Linked DNA regions of Homo sapiens: region 1 is reported to be linked to region 2. Evidence: microRNA targets listed by miRTarBase, many of them from high-throughput screens and not tested one by one. Region 2 holds a microRNA gene; the other region holds the end of a gene's coding sequence.
What was found. Region 2 holds the annotated microRNA hsa-miR-3925-3p (ACUCCAGUUUUAGUUCUCUUG, at 1,915-1,935, shown strand). A microRNA usually pairs through its seed, bases 2 to 8, with sites in the 3' UTR of a target mRNA and lowers its output. Matches are read on the target gene's strand: a 7mer-m8 pairs with bases 2 to 8, a 7mer-A1 pairs with bases 2 to 7 and ends in A, and an 8mer does both.

Region 1 (3,000 bases), not on the chromosome of region 2:
CTTGAAGAATGAGCCAGTGATAAAAAATTTTTAACTTTTTTTTGGTGTGTGGGATGGAGTCTTGCTCTGTTGCCCAGGCTGGAGTGTAGTGGCACAATCTCAGCTCACTGCAGCCTCCACCTCCCAGGTTCAAATGATTCTCCTGCTTCAGCCTCCCAAGTAGCTGGAATTACAGGTGCATGCCACCACGCTCAGGTAATTTTTGTATTTTTAGTAGAGATGGGGTTTCACCGTCTTGGCCAGGCTGGTCTCGAACTCCTGACCTCAGGTGATCTGCCTGCCTTGGCCTCCCAAAGTGCTGGGATTACAGGCATGAGCCACCATGCCTTGCCTTAACTTTTATATCGTGTGTGATGAATTTATATCATGGTGTGAATTTTCTGGAGCATTTTACAGGCAGAGATTGCTTAATCATGGGTATATGTTCTGAGAAACGTGTTGTAGGTGATTTCCTCATGGTACAAACATCACAAAGTGAACTTACACAAATCTAGATGGTATAGCTACAACACATCTAGACTATATGGTACAGTCTATTGCTACTAGGCTATAAACCATACAACATGTTGTTGTACTGAACACTGTAGGAAATTGTAACAAAATGTTAAGTATTTATGAGTCTAAACACAGAAAATACACAGAGTAAACATGCAGTATAAAAGATAAAAAAGGATGCACCTGCATAGGACACTCCATGAACATAGCTTGCAGGACTAGAAGTTGCTCTGGGTGAGTCAGTTGAGTGGTGAGTGAATGCGAAGGCCCAGGATGTTACTGTACACTAATGGAGAATTTATAAACACTGTACACTTGGACTACACTACATTCATAAAAACATTTTTTCCTCAATAATGAATAAACCTTAACTTACTGTACATTATTTTCTTTATAAACTTATTTTTAAAAACTTTGTAATAATTTAGCTTAAAACACATTGTACAGCTGTACAAAAATATTTTATGTCCATATTCTATAAGCTTTTTCTATTAAATTTTTTTAAACTATTTTTGTTAAAGACTAACTAAGACACAAACACACATTAGTGTAGGACTACACGGGGTGAGGATCATCAATATCATTGTCTTCTGCCTCCATGTTTTGTCCCGCCAGAATACGTTCAGGGGCAGTCCTGCACATGGAGCCGTCATCGCCTATCATAACAAAGTTTTTCCGGGAATATCTCCTTAAGGACCTGCCTGAGACTGTCTTACTGTTAAAAAAACACAGGAATACATTCTAAAACAGGATTGTAAATATATAAACCAGTAACTTAGCCATTTATTATCAAGTATATATTGCACATCTGTGCTGTAATTTTTTTTTTTTCGAGACGGAGTCTCGCTCTGTCACCCAGGCTGGAGTGTAGTGGTAGATCTCAGCTCACTGCAATCTCCACCTCCCGGGTTCAAGCGATTCTCCTGCTTTGGCCTCCCAAGTAGCTGGGACTACAGGCACACCAGAACGCCCAGCTAATTTTCGTATTTCTAATGGAGACAGGGTTTCATCATGTTGACCAGGCTGGTCTTGAACTCCTGACCTCAACTGATTCTCCCACCTCAGCCTCCCAAAGTGCTGGGATTACAGGTATGAGCCACTGTGCCCAGCCAATTTTTTTTTTTTTTTTTTGATACAGTCTCACTGTCACCCATGCTGGACTGCCATCACGTGATCTTGGTTCACTGTAGCCTTGAACTCCTGGGCTCAGGCAATCCTCCTGCCTCAGCCTCCCATGTAGATGGGACTACAGGGTGTGCTACCACACTTAGAAAATGTTTTTATTTTTTGTAGAGACAGGGTCTCACTAGGTTGACCAGAGTAGTCCTGGCATCAAGCAATCCTACTGCCTTAGTCTCCCAGTGTTGGGATCACAGGTGTGACCATGCCCAGCTGTGTTGTACTTTTTTTTTTTTTTTTTTTTTGAGACAGAGTCTCGCTCTGTTGGCCGGATCTCAGCTCACTGTCAGCTCGGCCTCCTGGGTTTATGCCATTCTCCTGCCTCAGCCTCCCAAGTAGCTGGGACTACAGGCGCCCACCACCACGCCCGGCTAATTGTTTGTATTTTTAGTAGAGATGGGGTTTTACCGTGTTAGCCAGGATGGTCTTGATCTCCTGGCCTCGTGATCCGCCCGCCTTGGCCTCCCAAAGTGCTGGGATTACAGGCGTGAGCCACCGTCCCCGGCCGCTGTCTTGTACTTTTATACAACTGAAAGTGCAGCACGTTTACACCAGCACCATAAACACTTAAATAATGTGCTGCACTATGGTGTTACTACTGCTACTAAATTGCGGTTGATAGAAATGTTTTAGGTGTTATATAATCTTATGGGGCTACCAACCTATATGGTCCATTGCTGACTGAAACATGATTATGTGGTACCTGACTATACATGAATCATCTTGTATCTCGCTTTCTATATTACTTACATTGACAGGATTTCTCTCTTCAGTGGGAATTTTCACAACTTTGAAAGCATCTGTTAGAATTGAAAACTTTCTCCTATTTCTCACATTTATAGAGTTTCTATCGATTGTGCATTCTCATATGTTTTTTTAAGGATGTGGACACACTGAAGGCTTTTCCACATTGCTTACATTCAAGAGGTTTCTCATAATTGTGAATTCTTGTATGTCTTTGAAAGGAACTGTGAAGACTAAAGGCCTTCCCACATTCTTTACATTTATAGGGTTTCTCTCCAGTATGCATTCTCATGTGTCCTTGAAAGCTTGTGGGATAAATAAAGGCCTTCCCGCATTCCTTACATTCATAAGGTTTCTCCCCAGTGTGAGTTCTTTTATGTATCCGAATGTAACTAGAACAACTAAAGGCTTTTCCACATTGTTTACATTCATAGGGTTTCTCTCCAGTGTGAGTTCTTTCATGTGTTCGTAACGCACTAGGAAAAATGAACACCTTCCCACAGTCCCTACATTTATAAGGTCCGTCTCCAGTGTGGGTGATCATGTGTCTTCGAAAGTTCTCAAGAGAAATGAAGGTTTTTG
Region 2 (4,320 bases):
GGTTGGTATGGTTGGAAGCCGGCACCGCTGGGCCCAGGGTCTGGGGCTAAGTGGAATTCAGTGTGGGTCTTTCCTTTCCCATTAGAACCCCTCAAGTGTCAGACCCTCTGCCCCTCCTCGCAGTACTTCCGCCTTGCCTCATGCCTCCCAGGCACTATCTCTGTGAACTTTGAGCTCTGCCCCTATTGCCCAAGAAAGGCTCGCTGATGAGGAGGAAATTGCCCAGGTTTATAGTTTCCTCCCAGCCTCTCTGGCGACACCTGAGCCTGCTGCTTCTCCCCTTCCGCCTCCCGCCACAGTCATACACACAGCCACTCATGCATACTCACATCACACCACACTCCAACCAGCACTCCCCACGCTGCCAGTCACACATAGTTACACACATACAATCACATATATGTTCCCATATAGACACATTCACACTCATACTTTCACACATGCACACGCATGTGCACACACAGTCACTCATTTCTGTGTTGGAGATTGGGTGAGGACATTCAATGGGTGAGGACCAACAGGTGTGAAGATTGCTTTCTAGAAAATGACGCCTGTCTCTCTTTGCCATTCTTCCCAATCCAATGGAGCTACTAGGCTTTTCCCTCATTTCATGTTTAATAAACAAGCCGCTCTTGCGGAACGATGGTTGGATCCCTCATCAACCACCACACACTCCCGACCCCACCCTCCTTCCTGCCCCTGCCAGCAAACCTGACAGGTCCAAGGCCTGGAATTGAGAACCTGTTTTCTTCCCCATCCTGCCCCCTTGTGACGGGAGCCTAGAACTGCTGGCTCTGCGCCCAGAGGTTAACCACATTTCTCAGGAAGGTTCCAGTAGCCAGGCGGGTTGTTAGGAGAGGTCTGTATCCAACTCCCCTCCTCCTGCAGAGGGGCAAACTAACTAAATGAAGATCCACTCTTCCTTCACCCCGATCCTCAGGGCCACCAGAAGAGCTGACTGCTGTTTCACAGGCACACTCCACTGGCACAGGAGATGGGTGGGTGTGCCAACTGGACCAGCATATGGCAGGACCCTTATGATGATCAAGCCTACAGTCATCATACAATCACAGGATTGTTGCCCTATATCCATATTTTCTTGACACCCTAATAGTGCATTTGGCTAAACCTTGGTGAAATAGGCATGACAGCATGTGACTGTGCCGCCTCTGACACTGACCACCCAGGCCTTTCTCTTCACTCCTTCCCTGAGGCCTTGGAGGGTCTGCCTGTGGCCTTTAGTCTGGTGTTTGAGCTCACAGAACTGGGTGTGGTTGACCCTCCCTTTGTCCTCACCCCCTCCACACACACACAGGGATGCTCTTGCAGGCTCCTGGTTTGATGAGGCAGCCCAGGATGTGTCCCCACCTTTCCTCTTTGAGCCCAGGGCCAGTGTATTTCAGGCCGAGTGATTTCACCCAGGGTCTTGTTTCCATTCCATTTTATTTTTAGTCCTCAGGTGCAGTGGGATGAGTCCCTCCTATTCCCCAGGTGATGGCTGGCTGTCATCATTGGTCCTGACTAGTCACCTCTTGCTTCATGTATTCCCCCCTCACTCCATTGTCATTTCCATGCCCCCACCCCACAGGCAGCCATTCTACTATATCCTTTATTTGTATGTGTTCTTGTGCAGTGCTTTGTAGGCATGGATTTTGGTACTGCAAAGTGCTGCATTGTACACATAGTATTGCATAGTGTTGCCTTATTACCATTTCTGTAACAAACTGAATGTGTTACTTTATGTTGGAGCGTGGTGGAGCCTTAAGAATTTATTGAGAATCTCTGCATTAATGATTATGAAAGTGACTGCAAGTTTTCGCTGAGTCTTATTTCCTGAACATAAACTCAGGATCCTGGACCATGGTCATGTGGGAATAGCAAGAGAACTGAAAGTGGAGCCTGTCACATCTCCAGACTCCAGTTTTAGTTCTCTTGCTATTTCCACCACATCTTTCATCACTTCCTCCACTAAAGTCTTGAACTCCTCAAAGCCATCCACGTGGGCTGGAATCAACTTCTTGATGATGGATGAAGCCACTTCCTTGTGGCTGGAACCAACTTCTGTGTTTCCTAAAATGGGGACAGCAATAGTACCTACTCTCTAAAATTTGTTGTGGGCTAGGTGCGGTGGCTCACGCCTGTAATCCCAGCACTTTGGGAGGCCGAGGCAGGCAGATCATGAAATCAGGAGATCGAGACCATCCTAGCTAACATGGTGAGACCCTGTCTCTACTAAAAATACAAAAAATTAGCCGGGTGTGGTGGCGGGCGCCTGTAATCCCAGCTACTCGGGAGGCGGAGGCAGGAGAATCACTTGAACCTGGGAGGTGGAGGCTGCAGTGAGCCAAAATCACGCCACTGCACTCCAGCCTGGGCGACAGAGGGAGACTCCGTCTCAAACAAAAAAGAAAATATTTTTTGTGAAGATCAAATGGGTTAATACAAGTGAAGAGTGCCTGGCACTACTAGTGCTCAGTAAACATTGTTTATGGATGCTTTCTTTTTTTTTTTTATTAGGCCTTATAATAGCCCTATGAGGTAATATAATTAGTTCCATTTCACTGATGAAGAGACCAAGGTCCAGGGAACAAAACAACTTGCCCAGGTTTGCATCATGATACTGCCAGAAGCTAAATCTAGATCTTCAGACCCCAAGACGGCCACAGGACCTCGATCCCCATGTGTTCCCTAGAGGTGTTGTGCAGAACCTTCCTGATGCTGATCTGGATGACGAGCGGTCACCCACAGGCTGCTGGAGATGATTCCTGGTCGGGTGGCCCTCAGTCCTCCTTGATCTTTCTCCCACACTGTGATCTTCACACCCACTGGCCATTCCTGAGAAAGAACCTGCCTTCTCCAGGGCTTTTGTGGGTGCCCATGTTCACCAAGCAGCCTCTAAAGTGATGTGAATCCTAGCGCCAGGCCTGGTAGTAGCACATATGCATGGTAGATGCGTGCTGGAAAAGCAGGAGCCCTAGGAGCCTGCCTTGGGTTCTAGTCCTAGCCATCCATTGCCTCACCCTAGGGTCTAACTTTCTATCTCTAACCTTCAGTTTCCACATCTGCACAATGGGGATAGGAACTTTTCTGTGAGGATCAAGTAGGTTTTAGGAGACTATTCCAATCTTGATCAAATACTAACAGTCGCCTGAACCCTGCAGAACAATCCCTGCTTGTTGTACAGTCTGATGCCACCTCAGATGAACCATTACCCACTGTATGCACTGAACATTTTCCCCTCCCCTCCAGGAAGATCATCCTCTGGATCTGCCCTCCTCACAACGGCCTTATTGCTTTTCTGGAGTCACCGAATCTTAGAATATCGGTGCTGGAAAAGAACTTGAGGACCATCAGTCCCAGTGTGGCAAACTTATCTCCTTATCAAGGACCCCCGCTGCCTAAAGCAGTGGTTGACTCAGTCATTGCTCCCCTCACTGCAGGGTGCAGTGTGAAGAGGGGACAGATCATCCTGTGAGTTACAGGCCACCTTCAGCCCAAATACCCCCTTTCTACAGATAGGCAAACTGAGTAAATGATGATCCCAACTTCCTTCACCTGACCCTCGCCTCAGGGCTACCAGGAGATAGGGACGCCATGTTGGCACAGGAGATGGGTGGGTATGCCACCTTCCCCATGGGCAGGCCCCTATTGCGGTCACATCTCAAGTGACTACTTACAACCATCAAACAATTAGGGTTTACTGGTGGATGTCTTTATCTTTTTGACATTCTGTAGAATTATGCTAACAGATTTTGGAAAACAATTTGCCCAAAATCTACGTGACTTCATCCTTTGATTTTTGTTTGTTTGTTTGAGACAGGGTCTTGCCCTTCACTCAGGCTGGAGTGCAGTGGCGCCATCACAGCTCACTGCAGCCTTGACCTTCCAGGCTCAAGTGATTCTTGTGCCTCAGCCTTCCAAGCGGCTGGGATTACAAGCGTGCACCACCACGCAGCTTTTTTGTTTTTTTGGTTTTTTTTTTGAGATGGAGTCTTGCTCTGTCACCCAGGCTGGAGCGCATTGGCGTGATCTCGGCTCACTGCAACCTCTGCCTCCCGGGTTCAAGCGATTCTCCTGCCTCAGCCTCCCAAGTAGCTGGGACGACAGGTGCGTGCCACCACACCCAGCTAATTTTTGTATTTTTAGTAGAGACGGGGTTTCACCATATTGGTCAGGCTGGTCTTGAACTCCTGACCTCATGATCTGTCCTCCTCAGCCTCCCAAAGTGCTGGGATTACAGGCATGAGCCACCGCACCCAGCCATGCCTGGCTAATTTTTGTATTTTTAGCAGAGACAGGGTTTCGCCATGTTGGCCAGGC

Region 1: miRTarBase lists ZNF791 as a target of hsa-miR-3925-3p. The part of its 3' UTR that is shown has no 7-base or 8-base seed match.

The regions. Positions count from the first base shown.
Region 1 is chr19:12,628,782-12,631,781 of GRCh38, reverse strand. It overlaps ZNF791 (zinc finger protein 791), which reads right to left. Exons shown (of 4, transcript NM_153358.3): 4 at 1-3,000. The coding sequence ends at 2,522. Among named protein-coding and RNA genes, the nearest start is that of ZNF791, 19 kb to the right of the region's middle.
Region 2 is chr6:36,620,061-36,624,380 of GRCh38, reverse strand. MIR3925 (microRNA 3925) reads left to right here and starts at 1,869; the gene lies at 1,869-1,945.